6 separate regions of the Homo sapiens genome follow, and regions 1, 3, 4, 5 and 6 are each linked to region 2. The links come from fine-mapping of genetic effects on gene expression. A gene starts in region 2. Each other region holds a variant in brackets. All regions are shown on one strand. Distances are from middle to middle. Region 1 has its middle 14 kb from the start of PPIF. Region 2 holds the start of ZCCHC24 (zinc finger CCHC-type containing 24). Region 3 overlaps PPIF (peptidylprolyl isomerase F). Region 4 has its middle 23 kb from the start of ZCCHC24. Region 5 overlaps ZCCHC24 (zinc finger CCHC-type containing 24). Region 6 overlaps ZCCHC24 (zinc finger CCHC-type containing 24).

What was found. PIP is the estimated chance that this variant, and not a neighbour inherited with it, causes the effect.
Region 1: its variant is the best candidate, but not a certain one, in a credible set for the expression of ZCCHC24 in whole blood (TOPMed, PIP 0.60).
Region 3: its variant is the best candidate, but not a certain one, in a credible set for the expression of ZCCHC24 in left ventricle (GTEx, PIP 0.62).
Region 4: its variant is the best candidate, but not a certain one, in a credible set for the expression of ZCCHC24 in subcutaneous fat (GTEx, PIP 0.55).
Region 5: its variant is the best candidate, but not a certain one, in a credible set for the expression of ZCCHC24 in subcutaneous fat (GTEx, PIP 0.89).
Region 6: its variant is the best candidate, but not a certain one, in a credible set for the expression of ZCCHC24 in testis (GTEx, PIP 0.89).

What each region holds. Positions count from the first base shown.
Region 1 is chr10:79,330,864-79,335,811 of GRCh38, forward strand. No RefSeq gene overlaps it. Among named protein-coding and RNA genes, the nearest start is that of PPIF, 14 kb to the right of the region's middle. RefSeq lists enhancers at 248-748, 423-1,622, 622-881, 749-1,249, 922-1,201 and cis regulatory regions at 740-1,240, 810-1,310, 853-1,353. The variant C/G (reference allele first, on the strand shown) is at 2,446.
Region 2 is chr10:79,443,242-79,448,189 of GRCh38, forward strand. It overlaps ZCCHC24 (zinc finger CCHC-type containing 24), which reads right to left and starts at 2,383. Exons shown (of 4, transcript NM_153367.4): 1 at 1,954-2,383. The coding sequence starts at 2,199. It overlaps LOC105378383 (a long non-coding RNA gene), which reads left to right and starts at 3,000. Exons shown (of 4, transcript XR_946104.4): 1 at 3,000-4,948. RefSeq lists silencers at 2,236-2,295, 2,306-2,815.
Region 3 is chr10:79,348,850-79,353,797 of GRCh38, forward strand. PPIF (peptidylprolyl isomerase F) reads left to right here. Exons shown (of 6, transcript NM_005729.4): 2 at 227-257; 3 at 816-904; 4 at 2,638-2,734; 5 at 3,468-3,543; 6 at 4,858-4,948. Among named protein-coding and RNA genes, the nearest start is that of PPIF, 3.9 kb to the left of the region's middle. RefSeq lists enhancers at 368-868, 2,871-3,371 and cis regulatory regions at 4,204-4,948, 4,211-4,948, 4,874-4,948. The variant G/T (reference allele first, on the strand shown) is at 2,431.
Region 4 is chr10:79,466,072-79,471,019 of GRCh38, forward strand. No RefSeq gene overlaps it. Among named protein-coding and RNA genes, the nearest start is that of ZCCHC24, 23 kb to the left of the region's middle. The variant T/C (reference allele first, on the strand shown) is at 2,129.
Region 5 is chr10:79,377,759-79,382,706 of GRCh38, forward strand. It overlaps ZCCHC24 (zinc finger CCHC-type containing 24), which reads right to left. Exons shown (of 4, transcript NM_153367.4): 4 at 4,567-4,948. Among named protein-coding and RNA genes, the nearest start is that of PPIF, 33 kb to the left of the region's middle. The variant C/T (reference allele first, on the strand shown) is at 2,739.
Region 6 is chr10:79,401,295-79,406,242 of GRCh38, forward strand. All of the region lies in intron 2 of ZCCHC24 (zinc finger CCHC-type containing 24), which reads right to left. Among named protein-coding and RNA genes, the nearest start is that of ZCCHC24, 42 kb to the right of the region's middle. RefSeq lists enhancers at 1,652-2,460, 4,077-4,884 and cis regulatory regions at 2,896-3,396, 2,903-3,403. The variant G/C (reference allele first, on the strand shown) is at 2,592.

The sequences.
Region 1 (4,948 bases), 110 kb before region 2:
GTCAGCACAGAGGGTTTTTTGGGTGTAGGCTGGGTGACTGGAGGCAGGGGTAGAGAAAACTTTCCAAGGTAATTGAAGTATTCTATGCCTTGACATGACTGGGTATTGGTCGCACAGGAGTATGCATTTATCAAAACTCTTTAAACTTCATTCTTAAGATCCATGCATTGTATTGAATGTCAATTATGCCTGAATAAAGGAGGGGGAAAATGTTCCACCTGGAAGAATGAAGGAGACTGGACTTTGGGGCTAGGATTGGAGGGCAGGGAGGGGCCTACTGCAGTCTCTAAGGTAGGGGGCCGCAGAATGGGGAGGAAGGATGGACCCGAGGGATGCCAAGGAGGTATAGAGGAAAGGGTGGATGCCTGATTGGCAGGAGTGGGGTCAGTGGGAGAGAGAGGGGGCAAGGGTGACTCAGGTTCCTCTCTTGGCACCTGTGATGGGTTAGTCCTCAGCCTGGTCCAGCTCCATCCCGTGGGCTTCCTGGCTGAGTGAAGCCAGGCCCCGGCTGACTCACTTCTGACCATGAGGTGTGCCCTGCCCTGGTCAGCCGGCCTCACAGGCTCACCTGTGTCAGCCTCCTGTGATGCTCCCTGACTCGCGGGAGGAGAAGCCCAGATGACTTGGGCTTTGTGCAGTCAGCTGACAGAGCCCTCTAGCTCTCCAGATGTGCTTGGCAAGCCAGTTGGGCTCATGGGTGGCTTGGGGTGCCCAGGGAACCTTCAGAACCTGCATTGAGAATGGCCTTGGAAGTGTAGCACAATCTTTCTGTATTACAGAGGAGAAGACTGAGGCCCAGGAGGGCAGGAAGTAGCTCCAGGTCCCCCTCTTCCCACCTCCTCCCTATTCCCCTCTGATTTCAGCTCTGCAGCTGGTACAGTGGCCCACACTGGAGACAGAGGAGGGGCAGTGGTGGGAAGCCCCCAGGAGTCATGACCCCTCAGAGTACAGCACACTAGGGTGCGGAGGCATAGACACCCTTGGCCAGCGCTCTCTGAGTGCCTCAGCAGCTCAAGTGTGCGGTGGCCTTGGGAAGAGCTGGTGGGAAAGTCCCAGGCATGTGTCATCCTGTTGTCATCTATCCCACCCCGGGGACTTCCCCATATGAGCATCTTCTCCTCGTCATCTAGCCCAGCCCCCTTGCCTCAGACAAGGACTTCTCAATTCCCGTGAGATGTATTATGCTGTGTTCTGAGAACCAAGCCTCTTGGAAGGGGAGGAGAGATAATGCACCTTCTGGGCTCTGCTTCCACGCCAGCACACTGAACTCTTCTGGAATAAAGGAATTGTGTTTGTGTTTTAAAAATGCTTTATTGAAGTATAACAAAAATATAATGAGTACACAGATCATCAATGTAGAGTTTGGTAAATATACACATATGTACACCATGCAGATCAAGATTTAGAACACTTCCAGGACTCCAGAAGGCTGGCTCCCTTGTACCCACTTCCAGTGACCCCCTCCCCCAAAGTAGCCCCTATTCTGACTTATCTCACCATAGATTAGTTTCACCTACTCTTGTACTTTCCATAATCATATAGCATATCCTCAAGATTTTTGTAGCCTCTAGTCCCAGCTACTTGGGAGGCTGAGGTGGGAGGGTCGCTTGAGCCCATGAGATGGAGGCTGCAGTGAGCTGTGTTTACACCACTGTACTACATCCTGGATGACAGAATGAGACCTTGTCTCAAGGGAACAAAAAAGGACTCAAATTAAAAATTTTTAAAAATTAGTGTGCCACAGATGCCGAGGTCTTCGGCCATGCCAATTGTCACTTGAGCTTCTAAACTGTCCCCATTAGAGTCAGGGCTCATCCTCTGAAGGGGCCGTGCTTCCAATCTTCCCTGGTGCAGTGATTTTAAAACATGCAATTTCTTTTCCACCCCTGGCATTAAGAGGTGGAGTCTTATTCCTCTTCCCTTGAATATGGGCTGGCCTCTGTGACTCACTTCTAACCAGCAGCATGTGGCAGAAGTAAGGCCATGTGTCTCCCGGCAGTAGGTCATGAAAGCAACACAGCTACTGCCCGGGTCTTGCTCCTGGGCTCTAGTTCTTGATACCCAGCTCCCACACCATGAGGAAGCCCAGGCCACATGGAGAGGACACAGCCTGTGTTCCAGCCGACTGCCCGGCCGAGGTCTCAGCTGCCAGACACATGAGTGAGATTCATCCATGTTGCTGCCTGCATCAGTAGCTGTTCTTTTTTATTGCTGAGTAGTATTCCACTGTATGGATGTACCACAATGCATGTATTCACCCTACTGTTCATGGGCACTTCGGTTGTTTCCAGTTTGAGGCACCTATGAACATTCACTTGAAGTATTTGTGTGGACATACATACTCATTTCTCTTTTTTAAATTTAAAATTTGTTTTTTTTGAGACAGAGTCTCTCTTTGTTGCCCAGGCTGGAGTGCAGTGGTGCAATCTAGGCTCACTGCAAGCT[C/G]CGCCTCCTGGGTTCACGCCATTCTCCTGCCTCAGCCTCCTGAGTAGCTGGGACTACAGGTGCCTGCCACCACGCCCAGCTAATTTTTCGTATTTTTAGTACAGACAGGGTTTCACCGTGTTAGCCAGGATTGTCTCAATCTCCTGACCTCATGATCTGCCCGCCTCGGCCTCCCAGAGTTCTGGGATTACAGGTGTGAGCCACCACACCCAGCCTTTAATTTTAATTTAAAAAAAAGTAGAGATGAGGTCTCATTATGTTGCCCAGGCTGGTCTCACACTCCTGAGCTCAAGTGATACTCGTTTCTCAGTCTCCCAAAGTGCTAGGATCACAGGGATGAGCCACCATGACTGGCCCTCATTTCTTTTAAATATATGCCTAGGAGTGGAATTTCTGAGTCATAGGTAAGCATATTTTTAGCTTTAGTAGATAACTGCCAAACAGTTTTCTAAAGTTATTGTACCAACTGACACTCCCACTAACAATGTATGGAAGTTCCAGCTATGCCACATCCTCAGCAACCCTTTTTAATTTTAGCCATTTTAGTGGGTATATAATAGTATCCCATTGGGGCTTTAATTCGCTTTGTCCTGATGACCCTAAAGATGCTGTCTGTCTACCTTCTCACATGATTATTGGTCATTTGGATACCTTTTTGTGTATATGTGAAATGCTTGCTCAAGTTTTTTGACCACTGTCTATTGGGCTGTTTACCATTTCTTATTGATGGATGTAAGTTCTCTATACGTAGTGAACATGAACTTTTGTCAGATGTATGTATTGTGACTATCTTGTCCTACTTTGTAGTTTTTTCCTTCCTTCCTTCCTTCCTTTCTCCCTTCCTTCCTTACTTCCTCCCTTCTTTCCTTCCTTCCTCCCTTCCGTCCCTCCTTCCTTTTCTTTCTTTTGATTCTCTGTTGCTCAGGCTGGAATGCAGTGGTATGATCCTAGCTCACTGCAACCTGGAACTCCTGGACACAAGCAATCCTCCAGCTTCAGCCTCCTAAGTAGCTAGGACTGTATACAGGCACATGCCACCATGTTCAGTTCAATTAAAAAAATTTTTTTTTTGTAGAGACAGAGCTGTGCTATGTTTCCCAGGCTGGGCTTGAACTCCTGGTTTCAGTGGATCCTCCTGCCTTGCCCTCCCAAAACACTAGGTTTACAAGCATGAGCCACTGCACCAGGCCTGTAGCTTCATTTCTTAATTCTGTTTCGTTAATGTTGTCTTTTGATGAATACAGGTTGCTAATGCTAATGAAGTCTAGGTTATCTGCCTTTTCTCTTATGTTTCATGCCTTTTGCAGCCTCTGTAAGAAATCTTTGAGAAGCCTGTTTTGTGCTGGCCAGGGTTATGCCAGCTTCCATTCTGTCCTTGCTCCAGTGTAGGAGTCAGTCCGTTATTTACTCTCCTGCCATCTGTCCATCAATTCACCTGCCCACCTATGCATCCACCCACCTACTCATCTCCCCATCCATACTCTATCACCATTCATACATTTACCCATCCATCCACCCACTGATCTACCAATATTTATTGCCATCACTGTGAGCTGAGTGATGACAGGTATTAAGAGACTGAGATGGTGGAGGAGCTACTGAGATGAACAAGACCTCCAAGGAGCTTATAATCTGATGGGAAAAGCACAATATACGCAAATCCTCGACAGATTTTTATCTACCCTCATGTTGTTCCGAAGTCTGTAGCTTTCATTCATTACTCTCCGGAACCTCCATCCATTTGTCCTTGTTCTGTGACACTCCTTCCAATATTTGGAGATTGTCTGATTTCCACAGGCCTGAGCTGCAAATAGAATACCCGACCTCCCTTGTTACAGAGACTTGGCCTTTATTGATGTGGCCTGAGATGGTTGCCAGCCCTGACCCATCAATGGCTTAAATTCTGCTTGTGAGCAGCCTGTATTCAGAGAAGTGTGACCCAGTGGGGGGACCACTTCTCCCAGGGCTGACTGACCAGCTGTGGGGGTTTGAAGGCTGGCTCTGTGGGACTGGCAGGTGGCCCAGTCTGGCAGCAGAGAGGCAGGCAGTGGGCCTCAGCAGGAGTTTCAACAGGCTGACGGAGTGGGCAGAGAGGAAAATGGGGGTGGGTATAAGCTGTCACACTAAAGGGTAGACTCCTTCCTGGCTTGAAAATAGGGTGGATTCTGGCTCTTTTTTGCCGGGTCTCAGGTCAAGCTGGGGCCTAGGGTCTTGAGGTGGGGCATGGGGATAGTGGCAGGGAGGTCAGTAGGCCTCTACTCCTCCTGAGAGGCCCCCATCTGGACTCTAGCCATGAACTGGGCTAAAGTACCGCAGCTCCCCAGCCCTAGCCTCTGCCTGCCTCTCTCACCTTGACCTCTTCCTAGGGGCAGTGGCTCAAAACCAACAAAAACAACAAAGATCCCGCCAGCCCTGTCCTCAACATAGCCAGGCCCTGGTCACTCCTCTGAGAACTGACTGCCCAGAACTCCCCAGCAGGCCTGGCTGTGGTCCCGCCTGGCAG
Region 2 (4,948 bases):
GGGCAGTTCTCACTGAGCTCCGGTTGGGATCCTGGATGCCAGAAATTTTCAAAAAGCAGCACAACATCCTATTCTTATAGGGTACTCTTGATGGTTCCAAACTCCCAGGTCCTCTCAGGGGAGACCCACAGGTGGGGAACAATGCCACCATGGTAGGGGGAGCAGAGGGAGGCTAGAAGAGGTTGATTAGGGGTCCACACTTGACCTGTGGGTCATGTTCACCCTTCTCCCAGGGTGAGAAACTCCCGTGGGGCTCCCACAAGCACCCCCATCAAATCACCCACCATTCATACCCTCTATCACCTTGTCTGTTTACTCATCCGTGGCCCCCACTAGCCTGTGGCTGTGAATCCCCGGGTCCTGCCCAGAGCTCAACAAATGTTTGGTAAGAGAACAAACAACTGAAAAGACGCATGCACCAAAGAAACACCCCACAAACGGTCCTCCAGTCACTGGTCACCTGAAGCCAATTCCCTGAAGAGGCAGAAAAGTCTCTTACAAGAAAGAAAGATCCCCAGCCAAGAACCATTCCTCACGTGGAGAGAATGCTTTACAGTTTACAAAGAGCTTTGGCATAGAAATGCTTTTGCCTGACACCAAAGGGTGCACTTTCAGACTCATCTTCCTCCTCTGCACCCAGCCCCCTCCCACGCCTGTTCTACCCACCCAGGTCAACAGGTCAGCCTGGGTAGTGTTGGCCTTGGGCCAGCATTTTATATGTCCATGCCTCCCCTAGTAAATAATGGCAGAGTTGAACTCAAGGGCGACCCTCTGCCTCCCTCTCTTACCCCCAGCACACCCTTGCGTACATAGGCTTTCCTCCCCAACCCATTCAGGACTCTGACTCTCCTAAAACTCACCGGTGTGCCCAGGTCTGGAAGGAAAGTGACCCCCATGTGTGTCCTCCCCCGAACACACCTCTTGCATCTTTGCAGAGAAAACCCCCACAAGGGGAGGAAGTGAAGGCCACAGATGGGTGTCTGAAATTCCCAAATGAGGCAGGAGTAAATGGAGGGAGGGGAGGAGTCCAGCCCACGGAAAGGAGTGGTATCTGGGCAGGCCCTGGAGACTCTTCAAAAAGGGCTGGGAGGTGGTGGCGATCTGTGTATTTATCTTGCTGGCAAAGAGGCGCTGCCCAGTCAACTTTGTAACTGAATCCACCAAACAGGCAGACTTTGCAACACAGCCGGCCCAGGTTTCTGCAGAAGGCGCTGGGCAGCTGGAACCTCTCCCCCCCCCTTTCTAGCCCCCCTCCCAAGAGCTCAAGAGGATTTCCCTTTCATTTCCTTCGAGGCTGGGAGGGCTGGGGACAGCGCAGTCTGTGGGGTCAAGCCCTCAGAAACCACTTCCTATGTGGCTGGGGGAGGGCGAGCAGCTGGAGGACGTATCTGGGGTCCCCGAGTGAGAACAGCAGGAGAAGCCCTCTGGGCAGTCACTGCTCTCCAGGGTGCCTTTCGGGTCGGGAACCGCAGAGGTCGGAGAAAAGATTTTAGGCCCTTCCAGAGGAGCTCCGAGCAGAATCTGCACTCTCGGTCCCAGCCCGCGGTGGCCAGGACGAGGATAAGGTTGGGCGTGAGAAGGACACTTCGAAGGGGCTCCCCGCCCAGGCCGCACCCCAGCTGTCTGAAGAAAATCCGGAGACAACCCCTCCTCAACTCCCTCCCCCAACCCCTTTGGAGCAGGGCTGCCCTGGCAGGGAGAGGGGGCGGGAGAGCTCCGCCCCGGCCTGCATTGCTCCAGCCCGGGCTCAGCCGGGAGGTGACGCGCACCCGGCACCCCGGGGACTTCGGGCGGCGAGTTTGGCAGAGTTGAACGAAGCCAAGCCAAGCCGGGCCCGGCAATGCGGAGCCGGGCCGCGCCAGGCCAGGAAGAGCGGGTCAGACAGGGAACGGCCCGCCACGGTGGGGCGGTGGGGCGGTGGGGCGGTGGGCGGGGGCGCGCGGGGGCACCCACCTCTCCGCGCTGCAGCTGGAAGAAGCTGTTGAGATAGCTGGAGTGCAGGGGCGAGCCCAGCTGCTCGGGGCGGCCCTTGCCGAAGGCCAGCTCCGGGGGTGCGGCGCCGGCGGTCGGCTCGGGCCGGAAGGCATCGAAGGCGCTAGCCTGGTGCGTGTCCTGCAGCGACAGGTAGACCCAGTTGAGCAGCTGGGCGGGCTGGTACACCGAGGCGGCGCTCGTGTCGATGGCCGACAGCAGGCTCATTTTGTGGCGGCGGTGCCGGCCCCTCCCCGGCCGCCCGCTCGCGGCCCCCCTCCGCAGCGGAGGGGCGGGCACCGGGGAGCCTGTGCCCACTGCCCGCCTCCCGAGCCCCGACGGTGATCGCCCCGCGCCCTGCGCCCCGCGCGCTGCCCGCAGCCGCTGCCGCTGCCGCCGCCTCCCCCCGACTGCGGCCCCGGCGCGCGCAGGCGGTGGAAGGAGGCAGCGAAAGTTGGGCAGGAAACTTTTGGCCCCGCCCCTCCGCCCCGCCCACTGCGTCCCGCCCCGCCCGGCGATCCGCTATCTGCCTCGCGGCTGACCCCTCCAGCGGCGGCTCCGGGGGTGGGGTCCACGATGCCCCGCCGCCCACTCCCTGCCCCGCCTGGCACTGTCCTCGCCCTGCATTGGCTGTCTCGTTGAATATGAACCGTCAGGGGTGGGGAGAGAGGGGAGTGAGGCTCATCTGCATATGCAGCACGGCGCGGGCCCGCCCATGCGAGGCCCCGCCCAAGCCCCACCTCGTCCCAGCCCGGCCAACCCAGCTCCCCGAGCTGCCGGGAGCTCAGTGCAGCCCCGGCCTAATCAATTTCGTCTCCCTCTGTCGTCAGCGCTCTTGTCTCGTTCTTTCCAAATCCTCTGCAATTGTTTTTCACTCACTTTTCCTTTCCTATTTTCCCTCCTTTCTCATACTCCTTCTTTCTCTCTCTCTTAGACTAGTACTAGTCTCCTGTGTCCGTCGTCCTTGTATGTGGCGCCCTCCGTGTGTGTGTGTGTGTGTGTGTGTGTGTGTATGTCCTTCTCTTTCTCTCACTCTTCTTGTCTCCTTTCTTCTATTTCCGTCTGGTCTGATGTTTCTCCCTGTCTCTCCCGCTCCTCTCTCAGACGCGTGTACACAGACGCACACACTTCTAACTCCCTCCTCTCGCTATCACCATCGGACCCTCCCCCTCCTACTTAATTCCTTCCATCTGCAGAATCACTTTGCGGGCCGGCTGCGCCAAGGGGGGCCCGGGTTCCTGCCCCAGGAAAGACTCCCCGCCCCCTCCCCCCCCCCTTCTCCTATTTCTGCTCTGGGCCCGCCTCGCTTCTCGACCCTCTTCCTCCACCCCGGCTCCAGCCCTAGCCCGCCCCGGTGCCTTGGCGAGTCGCCAGGACACCAGCCTGGGCCGGGGGAGCTCGGGAAAGCGGCTGTCACCCATCTCGCTGGGACAACTCAGCTAGTCCAAGACTGCCTGGAGGGAGCCCCGCCCCCGCCTCCGCCTCCGCCTGACGCCCCAGGAAGCCCCGGGGCCTTCACCGTCTCTTTCTCCGGGTGGTCTTTGCTGCGCCAGCACCGGGGACCTAGCCCAGAGGAACTCACCGCCTGGCTGGGACCGAGTCACCTCTCCCACTTTCAGTCTGGCTCTGGAGCCATTCCGCCCAGCGTTGGAGTGCCAGCTTGGCCACCGTCCAGCGGAATGACCTCTGCATGACGCCTAACCTCTGCGAGCAAGCCTGTTTTCTCCTCTGTAAAATGGGAGCAGTCATCCTCCCGCCGCCGGGGACATTTGTGTGCTTCCCAGCTTGGGTTTGGTAAGCGGAAGATATTCCATAAAGGACAGCTCTTCCCCGCCACCCACTCCACGAGTTACTCACATCACCTGCAGGGCACCTAACCACATCTATGGTCGCTCGCACCACGAAGGCCTTCAGTGATGACCAAATGCCACCCTTTTTCACCAACCAAGAGGCCCTTGGATCTCAGATCTCCATCTTGTCTATCAATTTGCAGTTATTAATACAAACGACAGCATATGTATCAATCATGTCTTCATATTTTCATTCATCAAGAACACATCTATACAGTACCCTTTATATTTTTAAACAGTATTAAACCTATTTGTTTAAAGAGTAGGTACACGGTTCTTGCAAATGGCTCACCTGTAATCCCAGCACTTTGGGAGGCCAAGGCAGACAGACTGCTTGAGCCCAGGAGTTCCAGACAAGCCCTGGAAACATGGCAAAACCTCATCTCTACAAAAAAATGCAAAAATTAGCCGGGCGTAGTGGCGCATGCCTGTGGTCCCAGTTACTCAGGAGGCTGAGGTGGAAGGATCACTTGAGCCCAGGAGGTGGAAGCTGCAGTGAGTCGAGATCATGCCACTGCACTCCAGCCTGGGCAACAGAGTGAAACTTTGTACCCCCCGCCCCCACACCAAAAGAAATAGTTGGGATTATCTCTGGAACTCTGCTGCTGTCTTTGAGCTTCCAAGGATGGAGGTAGGATTTGGAACCACTGATAAGACCTTCCCTAGATTTTATAGAGAAAACTGCTGTTCAGGGAGGGGACATAACTAGGAATCTGACACCTGCTTAGAGAAACCTCTGATCCTTCCCTGTGTCCTTCAGAGTGATTTGATGCCAAGAAGGTGTTTATCATGCCTGGTGACCACATTGATGGCCTCTGCCTCTTTCTCCCCAACATAGTTTCTACCCAGAGCCTGGAGCATAGATAGTAAATAATCAGGAAATAGTTGCTGGGTTGATGATTGAATGAATAGGTGGAGAGACGCATGGATGCCCAGATTTTGCTCCTCTTTGAAGCCTGAGCGGCTTCTTTGGTTTTGTACTTTTCTCCCTCTCCTTGCCCACAGGACAGCTGCTCAACATGTGGGCTCTGTACCCAGTAGGTGACTAATAAATATGAGCATCCTATAGGCAGTTTGCCTGGATGGCAACTGATTGACCTAAGGTCAGCCCTCAGCCAGCTGCTGGG
Region 3 (4,948 bases), 94 kb before region 2:
AGATTAGGAAACCAAGGCCACCTCCTCCAGCCTTGGGTTCAGGAAACGGCTCCCAGAAATGATAGAGCTGCCTCCCATGGGGGTTGGCAATAATGGGAATGGAATGTCCACGTGCTTCTTCCTTAGCCTCCTTGGCCACTGTGGGGGTGGGTGGGTGCTGAGAGACACCCACCTTCACCTGCCTCTCCAATGACCATCCTCTTTTGTCCTTCTTCTCCCCCAACAGCTGAAGGCAGATGTCGTCCCAAAGACAGCTGGTAAGACAGGGCCTGGGGCCTTCTGAGATGGGTCTAGAGGGAAGGGGGCCAGGCAGGGCAAGGTGGGTGGCGTGATGAGAAGAGTCGGGGCTCAGAGACCCCTGACAGATGGGAGCTCCATGTGTGGCTCAGCCATTGGGTGCTCTGGGGCAGCCCTGCCATCCCTCTCTGGGCCTCAACGTTGGCTCTGCCCTCCTCTCTCATAGTAGCTGGGAGCCTCAGAGCCAGTGGAAGGCACATGTAAATTTCCCGGAGACTTCCCCACTCCTGGTGCCCAGTGAGGCAGGGTGATGGGCACACAGCCCTTGAGTCCGTGCCCTGCTGGCCAGCACAGCCATGAGCCTGTACTCTTGTCACAGTGCTCAGGTACTGAGGACAGGGAAGGGGAGTGACTTGTCCAGTTACATAGCGAGTTGGGCAGAGCAGACCCAAGAGGTGGGCCAGAGTCTTTATCCCCCTGTTCACTGCTGGGGATGTAGCAGGGATTTTGGCTGGAACGGGTATGACCCTGGAATTGGGGCCTGGCCCTGTTGACCTGTGTTTCTCTTCGACCCTCAGAGAACTTCAGAGCCCTGTGCACTGGTGAGAAGGGCTTCGGCTACAAAGGCTCCACCTTCCACAGGGTGATCCCTTCCTTCATGTGCCAGGTAATGTAGTTTCCTCTTCTGTAAGGGGGGATGAGAGCAGGAGCTGCCTTGTGGGTGTGTGAAGATGCCTGGTATGAGGAAGGTGCTGAGCAGAGCAGCTGCAGTTGCTCTGTCAGCCAGGCTGCCCTCCCTGCATTAGCCCTGTATCCAGGCTTCACTGCACATGGAAGCCCAGCCCCAACCCGCTGCCACTCCAGGTCAGTGGCAGGCCCTGCCCGGGGGACTGGGAGGTGGAGTCTATCAAGAGAGAGCTGGGTTGGGAGATGGATGTGCTGGGGGTGGCCTTGAAGACTTTGAAGAGCCAGCATATTCCAGTGGTCTCTGACCTTGTCCCCTGTGTGCCCCTGAGCACTGGTGTGGGAGATAAGAGAGGGAGAGAGAGAAGTGGAGGAGGCGGAGGAGGAAGACAGGTCCAGGGCAGGAACACACACGCCAGGACTTGGGGCTTCCCTTCCCAGAGAAAGGCATTATTCTCGGTGAAATGAATGTTTTTCGGTCATGTGTCATGCTCAGTTTTCACAAGCATTGGTATTGCTGTGTCAGAGGTTTGGGGGTAGGTGTTGTAGCAGGAGCTTCCTGTGGGTCAGGACCCAGGTGGTGTTGGGGCTGGTCTTCTATTAGCACAGACCTTCAAGATCAGGGATTGGGTGTCCTGGGCAGGCAGAGCCTGGAGGCAGGGGCATGGCTGTCATGACCTCTTTGAAGACCTTCCTGCCTGGAATTCTCTCCCCATTCCCTCCACCCTGACCCAGTGGCCGTCATCGTACCGTGGTAAGTGGCAGCGGGTTGGGACTGGACGTCTATGTGCGGCGAAGCCTGGATACGGGGTGAACACAGGGACGGCAGGCCTGGCCCAGCCCTAAGGCTGATGGTAAAGTAGGAGCTGAGGTGGAAGTCCTGAGCCAGGGTGGGAACTCCAGCGCGGGAGGGCTCCCTGGCACAAGGCGGTGGCACCGGGAGTCCAGACCAGAGTCCTGAGTCATCCGTTGGGAGGGATATCAATTAGGGAGCACCTAATTGACACCTGTGGATGCTTCAGCTGGGCTGGTCAGTTCCCCTCTCTTACCCACGGATCCCATCTCAGGAAAACAGCAGCCAGCCATGGCCTGGGCTGGGCAGCGCTAGGCATAGGGGCTGCTACCAGGCTCTTCTGGCCATGGGTGCCCCATGCAGGTTTGGCCACGGCTGCCTGGGCCTTAGCTGAGGCCTGAGGAAAGATGTCAGCCTTGGGCAGACTCTGTCCTGGGTCTGCAAGGGTTGGGAAAGCTGCTGGGCTGGGTAAGGGGCAGTGCGCGGACAGTGAGGGGACTCGGCCTGGGGAGCTGGTCTGGACCAGCTGCTGGTACTCCCACAGACTAGACTCGGGAACTGGGGGGCCTCTGGCCTCTTCCTTGTTGCCCTCCAGGAGGAGTGGGTTAAATTCTGGGTCACTAAGTATCATCTCAGAATGGCCTTTAGGTCTTTTGAAGATTACTTAAAAATTTGCTCAGACAAAAAGTAAGTCATTTGGAAACAAAGGTAGTTAC[G/T]GTGACAAAAGATATTTAAGTTTTGTCTTTTTTTTTTTTGCTTATTATTCTTATTATTAGCTCTTATTTTATTGGATGTTTATTGACCCCTTTACCTGAGGGGCGCCAACTGGGTGGGCTTGGGTGGGCTGAGGCTGCTGCCAGCGCCAGGGCCGTGGCCCCCGCCTGCTCCATGGTAGCCACTCAGAAGGTGCTTTGTGCTCACAGGCGGGCGACTTCACCAACCACAATGGCACAGGCGGGAAGTCCATCTACGGAAGCCGCTTTCCTGACGAGAACTTTACACTGAAGCACGTGGGGCCAGGTGAGTGGGGGCCTCCTCTAGGGTGAGTGTCCCCACAGCTCTGACCTGGCCTGGAAGCCCCAGCAGGCCCTGAGAGGCCACATGCAGTCACCGTCCAGTATCTGATGAGTCTCCTTCCTCCCTGCGACACTGTAGGCTGTCTCAGCATTTCTGGCTTGTTGAGTTTCCCTAGAGTTTTCTCATCTCTCAGTTTAAAAAGCAGGGTTTCCTTTGGGAACTTTGTGGAAGAACCTTTAAGCAGAATGGAGGCCCTGGCCACCTCCCTGTTTGTCCTCTGAGTTTCGGGTTGGAAATTCTAGGACACTTAGAATTGTTGCAGAATGGTCCTTAGGTCCTTTGAGGATTATTTAAAATCTTGCTTAGATAAAAAGCAAATGGTTTGGAAGCCAGAGTGGTTATTGTGGCAGCATCGTGTCACCTATAAGACCCAAGGTAGAATGTGGAGATGTCTGGAGGTCAGGTCCTGGGGTCCTGCCCCAGGTCCCGCCCCAGCTCTACCACTGAGAGCTTCCACAAGGCCCTGTCCTCTCAGGCCACCCCACTGAGAACTAGCAGGCAGCAAAGGCAGGCATACCCTGGGGGGCTGGTATCGGGCCCTGGTTCTCCTCTTCTGGGTCCCAGGATCTGCAGACTCGAATGTCCCTGGTGTGGTTTGCACCGTCTGCCCTTTCAAATGCCCTCCCAGGCAGGTGCCTCCAGGGGCAGCGTGGCTCAGCCCTGCTGGTTTTTGCAGGTGTCCTGTCCATGGCTAATGCTGGTCCTAACACCAACGGCTCCCAGTTCTTCATCTGCACCATAAAGACAGACTGGTGAGTTCCCTGCCCCAGGCCCTCTGGGAATGCGGGCAGCCTTGCAGCTGGAGGAGGATTCGTGCACTTTTAGGGGCAGGCAGTTTACAGCCAGGCCTTCTGCTCTGGGACAGTGGCCCTCTCCCAGGCTGTGTGTTTGTATGAGAAAGAGAAAGTTAGTGGAAGGATCAAGGGAGAATTGGGGTTGTTCCTGCAACTCTGTCATGGTTCGGGTTCCCATTGTTGCTGTCACCTGGAATTTTCTGAGTGTGTTCTGCTCACACGCACACACGAAAGGGTTTCTCTACCAGATACATTTGGGAAATGTTGCAAAACATATTATGAGGCCTCAGGAGGGACTGAGTAGAAGCCCACTTGTGTGGTTTTAACCTGGAGTTTCCCAGGCTTGTCTTGACCATGGGCTGAGCCTTGGCAATGCTGCAGCAGACATTTGGATATCAGCAAATTTCCAAATGAAGCCTCTGTATTATCATAAACCTGCAGATAGCCACAGGCCTGTAAGGGCCCTGTTTTCAATGCCCATGGATTTTAGGGATGTCTCTTTCCTGGTACATTTTCCTCTAAGGGATAAATTTCTCTGGCCAGAGTCCCAAATGTCCTAGCCCTGGGGCACCTGGGGATGAACTGGCTGGGAGCTGACTTGGTAAAGCCCATTTCCGAGGATTTTAGGGAGACCTAGGTGGGGCAGACACTAGAAGTGTCCAGCCTCCAAGCCCAAGAGATGTGGCCGGCAGGGCTGGGCAGGTCCTTGCTGGCTCAGCCTGCTCTTTGCTCCTTCATGGGACCCCAGTGGATCCTGCAGTTCTGCTCTTGGCTGGAACCACGCCAGCTTCGCTGGAGCTGGACTGAGCCGCCTTTTACATTATTGGACTCTCTCGGGTTGAGAGCTGCCCAGGACTCCTGCAGTTTCACCACCCTTGTTCCTTTGACTCTTGACTCATCATTCATGACCGTTAACGTGGTTCCATTTGTATGGACTTCTTCTTTCTTCAGAGCATTTCAGTATCCTGTTACCTCCCCATGCAGAACAAAGAATACTCCACTTTTGATAGATGGGGTTACCAGGATTCAGGCTACATGGCCTGAGGCAAGGTCACAACATGAGTGACAGAATGTGTCCTGGAAGCCAGGCATCCTCTGGGGTGTATTTGGGGCGCTCAACAAGGCTTGATCGAGCTTTGGGGGTAGATCTAGCTATTCCATGGGGATTCTTTTCAGAATTGCTGTTTTCGGTAACTAATTCCATGACCAGGTCCATGGCATTGGATGACATTGCGCTACACTGTTGCTCACCCGGGTCACCCGTCCTCACAGGTTGGATGGCAAGCATGTTGTGTTCGGTCACGTCAAAGAGGGCATGGACGTCGTGAAGAAAATAGAATCTTTCGGCTCTAAGAGTGGGAGG
Region 4 (4,948 bases), 23 kb after region 2:
TAAAACAAATGAAAACAAATCAAATAACCCAATTTTTAAAATGGGAAAACAAATATTTCTTTAAAGAAGACATACAAATGGCCAATAGGTGCATGAGAAAATGCTCAATATCATTAGTCATTTGGGAAATGCAAATCAAAACCTCTGTGAGATACCACTTCGTACCCACTGGGATAGGCAAAGATGTGGAGAAATTGGAACCCTCAAACATTGATGGTAGAAATGTAAAATGGTGCAGCCACTATAGAAAACAGTTTGGGGCTGGGAGCAGTGGCTCACGCCTGTAATCCCAGCACCTTGGCAGGCCAAGGAAGGCAGATCGCTTGAGGTCAGGAATTCGAGACCAGCCTGGCCAACATGGTGAGACCCCATTTCCACTAAAAGATACAAAAAATAGCCAGACGTGGTGACAAGCGCCTGTAATCCCAGCTACTCAGGAGGCTGAGGCAAGAGAAACACTTGAACCCTGGAGGCGGAAACTACAGTGAGCCGAGATTGTGCCACTGCACTTCACCCTGGGTGACATAGGGAGAGTCTTGTCTCAAAAAAAAAAAAAAAATTAAAAAAAATTTTAAAAAAGAACACAGTTTGGTGGCTCCTCAACGAGTTAAACAGAGAATTGCCACATGACTCAGCAATCCCACTTCTAAGTCTATACCCAAAAGGATTGAAAACAAACAGGTACTTAAATAGTTGTACACAAATGCTCATAGAAGCACTACTCGCAATAGACAAAAAGTGGAAATCACCCAGATATCCATCAATGGATGAATGGGTACAAAAAAATGTGAACATTATTCAGCCATTACAAAAAGTAAAGTGCTGATGCATGCTACAACATAAATAAACTTTGAAAACGTTATGGTAAGTGAAAACGGCCATACTTAAAAGGTCAAATTTTGTATGATTCTATTTATATGAATGTCCAGAATAGGCAAATCTGTAGACACAGAAAGCAGCTTGTTGGATGCCAGGGGCTGGGGAGGGTGGAGGGATAATGGCAAGTGACCACTAGAGAGTATGGGGTTTCATTTCGGGGTGATGAAAATGTCCTGGAATTAGATAGTGGTAACGGTTGCACAACTCTGTGAATACACTAGAAAACACTAAATGTTGTATTTTAAAAAGGTGAGTGATATGTTATGTGAATCATATCTCAATTGAACAAAAGAAGGCTGTAGGCTGGGCATGGTGGCTCACGCCTGTAATCCCAGCACTTTGGGAGGCCGAGGCAGGCGGATCACCTGAGGTCAGGAGTTCAAGACCAGTCTGGCTAACATGGTGAAACCCCGTCTCTACTAAAAAGTACAAAAATTAGCCTGGAGTGGTAGTGTGTACCTGTAATCCCAGGTACTCAGGAGGCTGAGGCAGGAGAATCGCTTGAACCGGGAGGCGGAGGTTGCAGCCACTGCACTCCAGTCCAGTCGACAGAGCAAGACTCTGTTTCAAAAAAAAAAAAAAAAAAAGGCTGTAAACTCCTTGGTCAATTGTGAGAACTTGTTCTCCAGCGCCCCCTATGGGGGATCACAGACTCTGTTGCCTCCATGTTGAAGGACAGGATAGCCAGGGACCTGGAACAAGAGCCCTGGCAAAGTAGCTTGAGCAAAAGGGAAGATTTGCCAGATAGATGCAGAAATATCTGATGGTACCTGAGGGCAGCCAGGGCAGGACTTTCAAGGCAGTGAAGACACAAAGGGGGAAGCTGGCCGGAGCCCAGGCAGCCCCTCTCCCAGCCTCCTTCCTTTCTCTGCCCCAACCTCCTCAGGCTCCAGGGACTTCTGTTTTTCTCTGTTATGTAAGAATCCTCATGACCAGTCTGAAGGTTCTGTCTGCTTATCGGTGGCTCACCAGTGGAGCCCTGGAAACACCCGACCCTGGCACTCTATGTTCCAGCTCTAGGAGATAGTGGACCTGCCTGGCTTCTGGATTAATTCTCCGTGGTCAAACGTCCACTCAAAGTCCGATCAGCTGGACCTCAGAAGAGGCTGGAAATGGGCTGCTCCTCTTGGATCCTAAGGATGGTTTGTGTCACTAAGCAGGAGACAGACAGGGCTGAAGAACACAGAAACCAGGAACTCAAATATGCTGTGTCTCTTCTCTCTGTTTCCCTCCCTCTCAGCTCTCTCCC[T/C]GCACTGCACACTGGCAGCAGCTCCAGACCTGCACACCCTGGAGAAGGAAGGATTGGGATTCTTCCACTTCCAACCCAGTGAATCTGAGGGAAGAACTCTGCCTAATCCAGCTTGTCCTGAGGTCAAAGAAGCCCCAGAGGAAGGGTGATAATACTGCTAGGGCCCCCTCTATAGGCGTGTGCATGGGGTGGAACAGTTCCCAAGAAGGGGAGGGGAAGGCACAACTACAGTCATCTACTACAAGATCTATAAAAGCTGGGGAGAGGGGTTGAGGAGAGCATAGGACCACCAGCCTGTCTGATCAACATGTGAGGCCTTCTTGGAGGAAGGCAGGATTTCCAGAGTGTTTCCATGGTAGGAACGTTACTATTTGCCATCAAATTGCAGGATTGCTAGAACATGGGATTTGAAACCCCCTCAATGGATTCTGAAAATCAGGGAAGGTGAAGGGAAGACCTCATCAATAAGATACCGTAATACACAAGCCTGTTAGGAAGCTACCATGTGCTCGGTACTTCCCATTCCCCGAGCACCTCCTCAAATGAGTTCCTTTCACTGTTTTTCAGATAAGGGAAACTGAGGCTCTGAAAGGCATACTTATCTGAGCAGAGCAGGATCCCTGGAGGGCTCAGACTCCAGCCCAGACCCCTTCTATCATGGTGTACTGCCCCACCCTTTGCAGACCTCTTAGGTGGTGGGGGATCAGGCCTGGGACTAGATGAGGGGGACTGGATGTGTGTGGCCAGATGGGAGCAGCCTAGACCTCAGGAACTAAAGCTGCAGGGCACGTGGCCTTCCCTAGGCACTGCAGAGCTCTGTGGGAACTGATGAGGTGGGAGGAGGCAGTGTTTCTATGTGTGGGAGATCATATCCTTCCAATAAACACATGCGTGAGGGGCCTGGGGCTCCTCCCTGTGACTGAGGCCATTTGTTTCTAAGCAGTAAACTGTGACTGACCTGGAGACCAACCAATGCTTCCAGGGAAGATGCTCATCGGATGCCCTCCAGCTTCAAGATGGCTTCCTCAAGGGCCTCCCCAGCTCCCCACTCCAGATGTTGGGGCCCTTCTGTGACCACCATCTTTGAGGTGACAGGCCTGTGAGTGGTCAGTTTGTTCCAGAGAAGTCTTTGGGAAATGCAATCACTGTTTACACATTCCTGTTGGACTCAGATTTAGGACAGATGAAGCAGATGTGTCCTGGATATCCCAGAGGGGAGGGCTGGGCCCATGGGAGAAGACACAGGAAGGAATGTTCCGACTCAATATGAAGAGAGACTTCCAGGGGTTATAGACGTCTCTAGAATGAATGTGGGTTACTCTGGAGGAGTGAGCTCCCCTTGGTCTGAGGTATACAAGCTGAGACTGAATGTCACCGTGGAAGACAGATGAGGAAGGAATCACAGCAACACAAGTGAATTAAACTATGAGACTTTCAAAGTCCTCTCCCAGGCAGGGCCCAGTGGCTCACACCTATAATCCCAGCACTTTGGGAGGCAAAGGCCAGAGGATCGCTTGAGCTCAGGAGTTCGATACCAGCTGGGCAGCATAGAAAGTTTTGAAATGTTCTACAAAATAATTAAAAATTAGCCGGGTGTGGTGGTGTGTGTCTGTAGTCCCAGCTACTCAGGAGGCTGAGGTAGGAGGATCTCTTGAGCGAGGGAAGTTGAAGCTGCTGTGAGCTATGATCATGTCACTGCACACCAGCCTGGGCAACAGAGCAAGACCCTATCTCCAAAAAATAAAATAAAAAGAAAATGAAGTCCTCTTCCAGCCCTGATTTTTCAGGTTTCTATACTCTTCCTCTTGCAAGCTTTATTTCCACTCCACTATCACCTTTTGGTTTAGGGAAACAAATTATGTGATGAACATGGCTTCTGGCTTCTCAGTGTCCTTCCTACCCTCCCAATGTTCAGGAACTGCTGCCATGCAGTTCTAGGTGGGGAGGGGTGGGGGGCTTGTCCCGCCCCCAGCACTAGAGGAGGCCCTAGTTTGCCTCAGTCAGTCAGCATAGCCACATCTCTTGCCACAGTGGCTGCTGGGTGGGCAGTACCTGAAGACCAAGGCAGTCCAGAGAGAGTATTCGCTGGGACACAGGTTTTGGCTCCGGTGGAGGCATGGAGCTCAGCAGGGTGAAGCAGAGCAAGGCCCAGGACTTGTGTGTGATGATGGTGGGAGGGAGTGTCCCCTGTCTTTGGCCTGACGGAGGAAGCACATGCCCTGGTGCGACAGATGCGCTCGTGCCCTTGCTCATATTCTCCTATCTCGTATTACCAGCTTTTGCTTTTTATTTTATTTTATTTTATTTTGAGACGGAGTCTTGCTCTGTCGCCCAGGCTGGAGTGCAGTGGCGCGATCTCAGCTCACTGCAGGCTCTGCTCCCCGGGTTCACGCCATTCTCCTGCCTCAGCCTCCCCGAGTATCTGGGACTACAGGTGCCCGCCACCACGCCCGGCTAATTTTTTATATTTTTAGTAGAGACGGGGTTTCACCGTGTTAGCCAGGATGGTCTCGATCTCCTGACCTCGTGATCTGCCTGCCTTGGCCTCCCAAAGTGCTGGGATTACAGGCGTGAGCCACCGCGCCCGGCCTTTTTTTTTTCTTTTTTGAGACAGGGCCTCTATCACCCAGGCTGGAGTGCAGTGGTGTGATGATGGCTCACTGCAGCCTTGACCTCCCAGGCTCAGGTCATCCTCTCACCTCAGCCTCTTGAGTAGCTGACTACAGGTGTGCACCACCACGCCTGGCTAATTTTTGTATTTTTTTTGTGGAGATGGGATTTTGCCATGTTGCCCAGGCTGATCTCGAACTCCTAAGCTCA
Region 5 (4,948 bases), 65 kb before region 2:
TGCGTGTGTGAGATGTGAGGGTGCGTGTGTGATGTGTGGGTGCACGTGTGAGATGTAAGAGGGTGCATGTGTGAGATGTGTGAGGGTGCACATGTGAGATATGTATGTGGGTGCGTGAGTTGTGTATGAGTGCGCGTGTGAGATGTGTGTGAGTGCGCGTGTGACATTTGAGGGTGCGAATGTGAGATGTGTGAGGGTGCACGTGTGAGATGAGGGTCTGTGTGTGAGATGTGTGAAGGTGCACACGGGAGATGTGTGAGGGTGCGCATGTGAGATGTGTGAGGGTGCACGTGTGAGACGTGTGGGTGCGCGTGTGAGATGTGAGTGCACGTGTGAGATTTGTGGGTGCGTGTGTGAGATTTGTGGGTACACGTGTGATATGTGAGTGTGCGTGTGAGATGTGAGTGCGCATGTGAGATGTGAGGGTGCACATGTGAGATGTGTGAGGATTCACGTGTGAGATGTGAGGGTGCATGTGTGAGATGTGGGTGTGTGAGATGTGTGAGGGTGCACGTGTGCGGTGTGGGTGCGTGTGTGAGATGTGTGAGTGCACGTGTGAGATTTGTGGGTGCACGTGTGAGATGTGTGAGTGCGCATGTGAGATGTGTGGGTGCACGTGCGAGATGTGTGGGTGTGTGAGATGTGTGTATGAGATGTGAATGCATGTGTAAGATGTGTGAGGGAGCACGTGTGAGATGTGTGAGTGCATGTGCGAGATGTGTGGGTGTGTGAGATGTGTGTGAGAGATGTGAGTGCACGTGTGAGATGTGTGGGTGCGTGTGTGAGATGTGTGTGGGTGTGTGTGTGAGATGTGCGAGGATGCGTGTGAGGTGTGTGAGCATGTGAGATGTGAGTGCACTGTGAGATGTGAGGGTGCACGTGTGAGCTGTGTGGGTGTGCACATATGAGATGTGTGAGTGCACGTGTGAGATGTGTGTGGGTGCATGTGTGATGTGTATGGGATGTGAGTGAGCGTGTGAGATGTATGGGTGCACGTGTGAGATGTGTGTGAATGTACGTGTGGATGTGTGAGTGTGCGCATGAAATGTGTGTGGGTGCGTGTGAGATGTGTGTGTGCGTGTGAGATGTGTGAGGGTGCCCGTGTGAGATGTGTGTGTGTGAGATGTGTGAGGGTGTGGGTGTGAGATGTGTGAGTGTGTGTGTGAGATGTGCGAAGGTGCGCGTGTGAGATGTGTGAGGATGCGTGTGTGTGTGGGCAGGGGGAAGCAAGTGGCCCTGACATCTCAGTTGGGATCCAGCCTCAGAACAAACGGCAGGGAAAGTGTCGAGAGTGGCCTTTATACCCAAGCGCAGCCCGTTCTTGGCTCCCTCCAGTTCTCTGGGGGAGTAGCAAGGACACCTGACTTTGGAGAGATGGCAAGCCCACCTCGGCCCTCATTCCCTTCATCTGGGGTATTCCCTGCCCCTTCTCCCCACTTCCAAACACCTGGGCAGGAGCCGGGCACAGGCTGCACAGGAGGCAGCCCCTGGAAGGGTGGCATTCAGATGCCTAGCCCTGGGTTTACCAGGCTGTAGGGAGGAGGACCAGGGTCTCTGAGGAGGGCAGGTGGGGGCTTGACTCCCCAGCAGACTATGGGTCCCAGGCTTAGCTCAGAGCTCTGGGCCAGGTCCCAGGACACACTGACAGACAGCTGTTTGCTGAAGGAAGGACTGGACAGGCTGGTGGGAATCCGCTCGGTGGCCCTGGTCAGGATCGGAAACAGCGCAGACAGTGGAGGTTGAAGGGTGTGGTGGAGGTCCCTGCTTGTCAATCTGGGGCAGCAGGGCTTCCCCAGGCCTCAGTTTATGCACCCGACATACTGACATGTTGTTCTCTGCCCTGGCTTCTGCCAGGACTGTTAGGAGGATGCATGAGGCCAGAAAACCGGGAGGAACTCCAGCCTATGGCCGGAGTCCAGCGCAGAAGCCGGCTGGTAGCCTGAGCCTGGGAGCTTCAGCACCACAGTGGGGGCTGGTGGGAGAGAGGTGGCCACCCCAGGGCTGTGTGCGGGAGCTGCCCAGGTGTCTCCTGCCACTCAGTGTGTCCTGATTGCCCCCAGCTTACAGATAAGGACATGAGGCTCTGTGTCACACATTCCAAGTAGAGCCTTGTCAGGGTCCTGCCAGGGGGGGCCCTGGGCTCCCGATGGGCTCTGGTGCTCAGGCGGTTGAGCTCCCGCTGTCTCTCCCCAGGCCAGGTCTCCCCTCTCTGTGTCTGGAGCAGATGCCAAGGGGGCTCCTCACAACCTGGCAACCATCACCACTTGGCACCAACCTACCCCACCTCCCTTCCTCCTGCCTGGTCTCTTGCCCTTTGAGACCACCCAGCCCTGGACCCTCACTCCTGGTCTGACCTTTGCAACTCTGTGTCTGTCCCAGCTCTGCCCTGATACGCTGCACTGGGAGGTGAGAACTCCAAGTTCAATCAAATCCTGGCTCTGCCACCTGCCTGCTGGGTGAGTGTGCTAGGTGAGACCTTTCCCGGTGGGGCCTCAGCTTTAGCCCAGAGCAGGGCCACCCTCTCTGGATCCCTTGCCGGCCATTTCTTTGGTGGACTCTGCTCTCTCCTGGGTCCTCAGCAGCCAGCTGCCTCTGGATATGGGCACTGAGTCCAACCGGAAATCCTTCCTGTCCAGGGAGTTACTGGTTTCCACGGCTCCAGGAGATGTTGAAATGCAGGCTGTTTGCCTTGGGTTTGTGTTCTTTCCACAGAAAACAAAACAAAACAAACACACAGG[C/T]GCATGCACACTGCCACACACTCAAAGACAAGGGCATGTCATCAAATAACAGCCCTGAAGCCCCAGCCTCAACATGCATGGGTGCCCAGTCAATGCTTACTGGGTGCGCAAAAGCACCTGGGGCCCTGGGTTCGAGGCCTGGCTCCCTGCGGAATCCCTGGTGTGATCACTGGTCGGATGCTTCTGCCTGAGCCACAGACAGTGGGAACAGGAGACCCACACTCCCCGGGCCCCTCCTGGGTGCAAGCAGTGCGCTTTGTCTTGTGTTCAGTGGGTTGTCTTATCCACACAACACCCCGGGGAGAGCTGGGGCTTGGAGAGGGGGAAAGCCACCCAGTGTCACACAGCTGGGGTGGCAGGGCTGGCCTGGTGGCAGTGCTGAAGGGGACAGGAGGACCCTGAGACAGACACCGGCTCTGTTTCCTCAGATCTGCCCAAGAAGAGCAATAGCCCCACCCAGGCTGCTGGAGGACTTGAGCTGGCAGAGGGCATGGTGTGGAGGAGGGGGTCCATTCTCCTCTCACCCTGGCGGAGATGGGTCCCCTCTCCACTCCCTTGCTGGGCCCGACTGGCAGCCACCTGCTTTCAGGCCAGTGACTCTGGCCATTCCACACACTGAGGGCAGGCACCGCGCAGGGAATTCTCTAGATGCAAATCAGCAGGAAGGGGCTTTGTTCTGGGATTTGCTCTGTACCCCAAATAAGACAGGAGGTCTGGCCTTGGTGGCCTCTGTTCCTGCCTTTCCCTCCCCCTTCACATCCATGGTCCCTGACCCCAAGGACTGGCATTTTGTTTTCTCTGCTCCATCTCAGAGGCCACAGTCAGGGGCCGTGGGATGGCCCATAGGGATGTGCTTTGACTTCTACACTATTCAAAAATCCAGTTAACTCTTTAACTCGTTGCCAAAATTTAAAACATGGAAAATTTCACATAACAACTGGGATTTCCAGTTTTTCTCCTGCTGCCCCTCCCTCCCTCCCCAGGCAACAACATTCATAGATAGCAACAGTTGGCTGGAGCTGAGGACCGGGCGCCCCCTTGACAGGACTCTCTGCCCCCTGCCTCCTCCCCATCACCGTGGGTCCCACAGGAACACTAGGGACCATCTGAAGTCCAGTGCTGCTCAACTTTGGATGCACAATGGACTGAGCTGGGGGGCTTTACAAACTCAGACACCCTGGACCACTTCCTTGGCCTCCCTGGGGTGGGACCAAGGCATGATGTTCTTAAAGCCCCGCAGGTGACTCAGGTGAGCAGCAAGGTTGAGAACAGCAAGAGCCGATGCTGGGCTTTGCAGGTGGGTGGCTGCTGATAGTCTTGCTTCGTTGTGGTTCCCCATGACCCTCAGCAGGAGCCCCACCTCATGACAGCCCAGGCTTTGGTCAGAAGAGGGGCCCCTGCCCCGTCTCCCCTGGACTGATCTGTTTGCTCACTGTGTGATGCTCCCTGTCTGGGCCCATATCCTGATCTTGGCCGAGTGTGCCAAGTGGGAGCGGCCCAGGGCTGCCGTCTCTGAGGCAGATTCACTCCTATATATGGTCACCCGGGAGTCCCCCCGCTGAGTGAACGCGTGACCTCATCTGCCGACAATCTCACCCAGTCTGGGGCCAACCTGGGGAGGGCCGTTGCCCTGGAGAGTGTACAGTTGGGGGCAGAGAGGCTGGGAGGAGGCAAATCAATGGCATGGAGGCAGGGCAATGACAAGATGACCCAGACCCAGGGGAGCTGAGGCCAGCCCCAAGTCTCTCTGATGCCTGCCCCGTCTCCTGCCTCTGAAAGAGTCCAGCCTCCCTACATGCTTGCGTGAACAAGGAAACCTGTGAGCCTCTTTTGCTTTTAAAAGTCCTTTTAATACAGCATGAAGAGGCTATATTTCTATAGGCGAGCCGTATACAGATTCTCCAGGAATAAGGCACACAACGGAATGCCATCCCAAGGGCTGCACTTCGGAGACGTCGGAGCCTTCTCCACGCACCTTCCGAGCTGGGCCCACGGGTTCTGTTTTGTCTTTTTAGCTGGACTCACACGTATGGACAGACACAGACACGGACGGGGTCACCGCATGGGGGCGGAGGAGGTCGGACGGCAAGGTTGGCAACAGAGAAGGATAAGCCCGCTGCCACAGCCCCCAGGGGACCGCTTGGCCATCTCGCTGAAGGCTGGAACACCCCCATTTCAGGGTTAGTCGTTGGACTGAGCTACAATGTAGT
Region 6 (4,948 bases), 42 kb before region 2:
GGGATGGAGAAATCACTGTTGCTCCAACATTGGGTATTTTTGGTCAGGGCCAGGCACTCTTTGTGTCCCGACAACCATCCATGAGCTAAGTACGGTTAGTCCCAGGTTTCAGATGGGAACGCTGACGCATGTAGAGGTTACATGGCTTGCCCAAGCTACGCTGCCAGGAAATGGGGTAGTCCAGATCCGAGCCCAAGCCACCTAACGTGGGCTCACTTTCTAAATTGCTACACAACATGCCAGGATTGCACAAAGAAGAGACCCACCAAGCCGGGATGGTGAGAAACGGGAAGGGGCCGCTGTTCTCATGGGTCCTGGCATGCTGGGGGCATCCCTCCCCATCTCTGGGCCTCAGTTTTCCCATCTCCAGAATGAGAGGTTGGACTGACTGCTGGGCAGGGTCACTGGCCTCCCAGGAGGCCCATAACTCAGCATGTGCCTGGCAGCCCACTCACGCTCCGCCCTCCCATGGAGCACAAGGCCGACCCCACCGTGCGTCCAGCTGAGAGGCTCTGGCTGGAGCCAAGAGGAGCAGGGGGAGGAAATAAAGAACAGATGGGCTGCCTGCTGGCCCCTGTCCTGCCCGGTCTGCCCAGTCTGCGTGCTTTCCTGCAGCCCGGCCGCTGAGGTGGCCCTGGGCTCCAGTCTACCTTCCCAGAGAGCAAGAGCCCCGGTCTCAGGAGTTCGAGAAAGACTTTCCACTGATGTAGAAACAGAGGCCACAGGGGTGGGGCAACTAGTCCACAGAGGGGGCGCAGGGCTGACCACGGACTCACGACCCCAGCCCAGGATCCTCTGTGTGGCCTTGCTGGCCCTTTCTGGAGGCCTTTACCAGAGGAGGCAGAAGGTCCCTGGTCATTCTCCCTAGTGTCTCTCCTTGAGCCTGGGGCAGTGCGGAGTAAACAGGGGATAGAGGTCAGAGGTCCAGGTTGGGCCCTGGCTCTCCCACGCCTGTCTTAGATACTTGGTTTTTCTTTTTTTTTCTTTTTTCTTTTTTTTGAGACGGAGTCTCGCTCTGTCACCCAGGCTGGAGTGCAGTGGCGTGATCTCCGCTCACTGCAAGCTCCACCTCCCAGTTCCATGCCATTCTCCTGCCTTGGCCTCCCAAGTAGCTGGGACTATAGGTGCCCGCCACCACGCCCGGCTAATTTTTTGTATTTTTAGTAGAGACGGGGTTTCACTGTGTTAGCCAGGATGGTTTCGATCTCCTGACCTTGTGATACGCCCGCCTCGGCCTCCCAAAGTGTGGGGATTATAGGCGTGAGCCACTGTGCCCGGCCAGAGCCTTGGTTTTTCTATCTTCCATGTGAGGGGGCTGCTCTGGTGGAGCTGGAGACACTAGCATTCAATGAGCACCTACAATGTGCCACACGCTTTCTGACCTGGCTCTCCAGAGCTCTTTCATTTAACAGGAGAGCAAACTGAGGTACAGAGAGGCCAAGCAACCTGCTCAAGGCCACACAGCCATGGAGCCAGAACTTAAACCCAATTTGCTGACTCCAAAACGACACTTTCCACTGAATGTGCGGCCTCTCCGTGAGACGGTTGAGAGAAAATTAAAGAAAAAGCCTGCTCCTAGGAACACAGCCGCACCTCTTACCTCCGACCCTGGCCACCACCTCAATATTCATTTGTTCACCTAATTTACACTGAGCACCCACTCTGCACCAGGCTCTGTGGAAAATTCCAGAAATATGGAAACAAGACAGATGAAGAATGCCCTGTCTTCATGGAGCTCTCAGTCCAAGGCCTTCCAAAGAAGTCAGCCCTGTGACCCTTTCCCCAACCGTGACCCACACCAGTCGCGAACTCCCCTAGCCACATACTCCTGGGCTCAAGCCCAAGTCGGACTCACACCTGTGAAAACACACTTGGATTCACGCCCTCAGGCAGAGGCCAGACAGACCTCCCAAGTGACAGGCATGGGACCTATGCATGCCACATGAAATTATCTCTGATCACTGCCACGGCCTCATTGAATCAGCACTCTTAACCCTAATGACGGATGAGGAAACTGAGGCTCGAGACAGGGGCAGCAAGTCTGCCAAGTGCTGAGCCCCTGGCTTTTCCTTCCCCTCTGTGCTCTGTGGTACTGCTTTAGGGACCAACCAAAGACCTCCACACTCACATGTCCACATGCACGGCCGGGGGAGGCAGGTGGAAGGGCTGCGTCCCTGCAGCCTGGTCTGGGCAGCTGCAGGCTCCACGGAGGCCCCGGAGGAAGCAGGCGGTCAGAGGGACAGGTGGGCTGGGCCGCGGCCTGCAGGATGCTGGGAGGGAGGAAGGACGCGGCAAGAGGCCACCCGGGGCTTCCTCTGGAGCCTCAAGGGCCTCCTTGTCTGCGCACAGCCGTCCTCGCCTCCTTGCCCAGGGCCCCCTCCCCTCTTCTGGGTTCCTGCTGCAGCCCAGCATGGGCCCAGAAGGCCTGGCCTCTTGTCACCCCTCCCACCCCCGTTCCCAGCCCAAAGCCACCACAAAAATGCCATCCTGATTCCACAACACTAGGGTTTGTCAAAGTGCAAGGAACAATGGGAGCTTTCACAGGGACAGGAAAAGGCCTCAGGAAAACCCTGGGGAGGGGGGCATGGAGT[G/C]GGGGTGTGGAGAGGAGGGAAGGGAGATAGAGAGGAGAAAACAAGCGGGGGACAGAGAGATGAGGGAGAGATCCTGGAGAGACAGGGAGTGAGGACACGATGTTGGGAATGAGGGGCAGGGAGTGAGAGAGCGCCCGTCAGAGCAGATAAGAGGAGAAGGGGGGACAGGGTGCCCAGGAGAGGCGAGACATGATGCAGAAACAAACCAAAAGGGCTGGGAGACAGAGACATTCGGGGGAACGGGGCCCACAGAGGCCAAGGAGCCCCTCCAGGACCCAGAGAAGTGCCAAGCCCCCCAACACCCCGTGCCTCCAGCCCTGTGCCCGGCCCTGAGGCGCTGCTGCCCAGAAGGCAGCAAGAAGCCCCCTCTCCAAATCCCACCCCAGCCAGGCGATTTGAAGTAATCTCAGGCAAAACTTTTTGGAAAGCAAAGACATTTTAATCACATGAACAGCCACTCCCTAAGTTATCTGTTTCCTGCTCTGGCTTTCCTCCCTTAGCAAACCACACGGATCAGAGCGGAGGGGCGGGAGGGGAAGAGGGGCCGGTCCAGAGGGGTGGAAAGCTTCCGAATCACAGGGATTGCAAAAGACAGAGGTTTCCTCCGCCACTGCAGAGACAGGGATTGCTGGCTGCCTTAGTGGGTGGATGGAAGATCTGCAGCCACCCTGCTGTTTGCTGATTGCTGGAGGGGACTATTGAGTTTGAAAACCATTTGTTGTTTCCAGATCTTGCACATCCCTCTTTGGGTCCCGTTTGCTCAGCAAGACCTTTCTTCCGACTGCACCTCTCTCTCCTGCTGCAGTCACCGCCTGAGTTGGGCCAGGCAGAATCTCCCCAAATACTTAAATGAAGGCCCACTTCAGGTTTGGGCCTCACCGCAGAGCTGAGATGAAACATGCAAGGCATTCGGGCCCCTTCCCCTTCTGGCCCCAGCTGACCTTCCACCCACAGCACTTACACTCAAATAAAGAAAAGTCACTCCCTGCAAGTGACATGCTGCCCATCTGTGCCTTTTTCTTGCTGTTCCCTGTACCCAACACTTCACCAGTGAACAGCCATGTACCCTTCAAGAGCAAGCTCCAGGGGCACCCTGGTCTCCCTGGCCCAGAGAGGGCTAATGCACTGCTCAGGAGCTCACTCCACTGCTGAGTCCCAGGCTGGCTGGTGTGGAGATAAGAACCCACCCGCCGCCTTGCCCTGGAGAAGGCCCTCTCCCTGAACTTCCAGGGGACTCTGTGGTTTGCACCACACGCTTAGCTCCAGGAAAGGCGAGAGACATGATCTTCCCTAGGTCATGTCCTGCCCTGACCCAACCTCCAGCTTGCCAAACTCAGAGATTTCACCCGAAATTTAAACGAAATTCCCCTACTGCCATCTTGTTTCCCACAAGCCTCTCTGTGTGCTGCGGTCAGGTGCACCCTCCACACCTCTCACTTCTATGGTAGCACTAGGCTCAGGCTGGGGCTCAGAATCCTTTGGCAGCTGGAGGGGACACCAGGAGTGGCAGTGCCTGCAAAGGGTGAGGTGTGAGGTGGACAGCAGAAGTTAGGGCAGGGTGGAGGTCGCACAGGTAGGAGGTGGCAATGCCAGGGCTGATCATGGCGTGGGCTCTGTCCAGTCCCAGGACGCCTCCTTGGGCAGTGCTGAGCACCCTGGACGGCTGTCTTGAGCTAGCAGCGCCATTTGCACAGGGCAGCTGGCCCCTGGCTCTGTGTCTGAAGGCGTCCCTGGCAAGGCCTGGATAGACATGGCCGTGACCAGCCCAGCCTTCCCTGGCTGGAGGGAAGGTGGTGGGTCAAGAGGTGGAAAGGCCTCAGCCTGGAGTGAGGCTTTGGGTGTGAGGGCCACAGCCCTGGGAGGAGGGGACAGGGGAGCTCAGCTCAAAATAGTGATGGGGGAAGGGTGTGCAGGGTGGCCAAGTGCCAGAAAAGAAATCTGATCTGCCCTGGCCAGTGAAATGCTGAAGTCAGCAGTTTGGGGCCACTCTGGCAGAGGCCTGGGGGCTGAGGCCCCCACTGCTGCCTGGCAAGAGGCTGTGGGCGTGACTTCCAGCCTCGCAAAACCCTCACATAAATCACCTCCTCTCTCTGGGATTCGATCTCCTCATCTGGGTAGAAAGAGAAGCAAACTTTCCATCTCTGGGTGAGCGCTGGAGCTCACAGCACTTAGGAGACTGTGGCAACCACAGACCGGGGTGGAGAGTGCTGAGTCTCCCCTGCGTGCTGGGGCTGGCCACGCACACAACCTGTAGGTAGCTTCATTGTGATCCCATTTCCAGGTGAGGAAATAGAGGCTCAGAGAGGTTAAGTCACCTGTCCAAGGTCACAAAGCAAATAAGCAGAAGGCTTCGAACC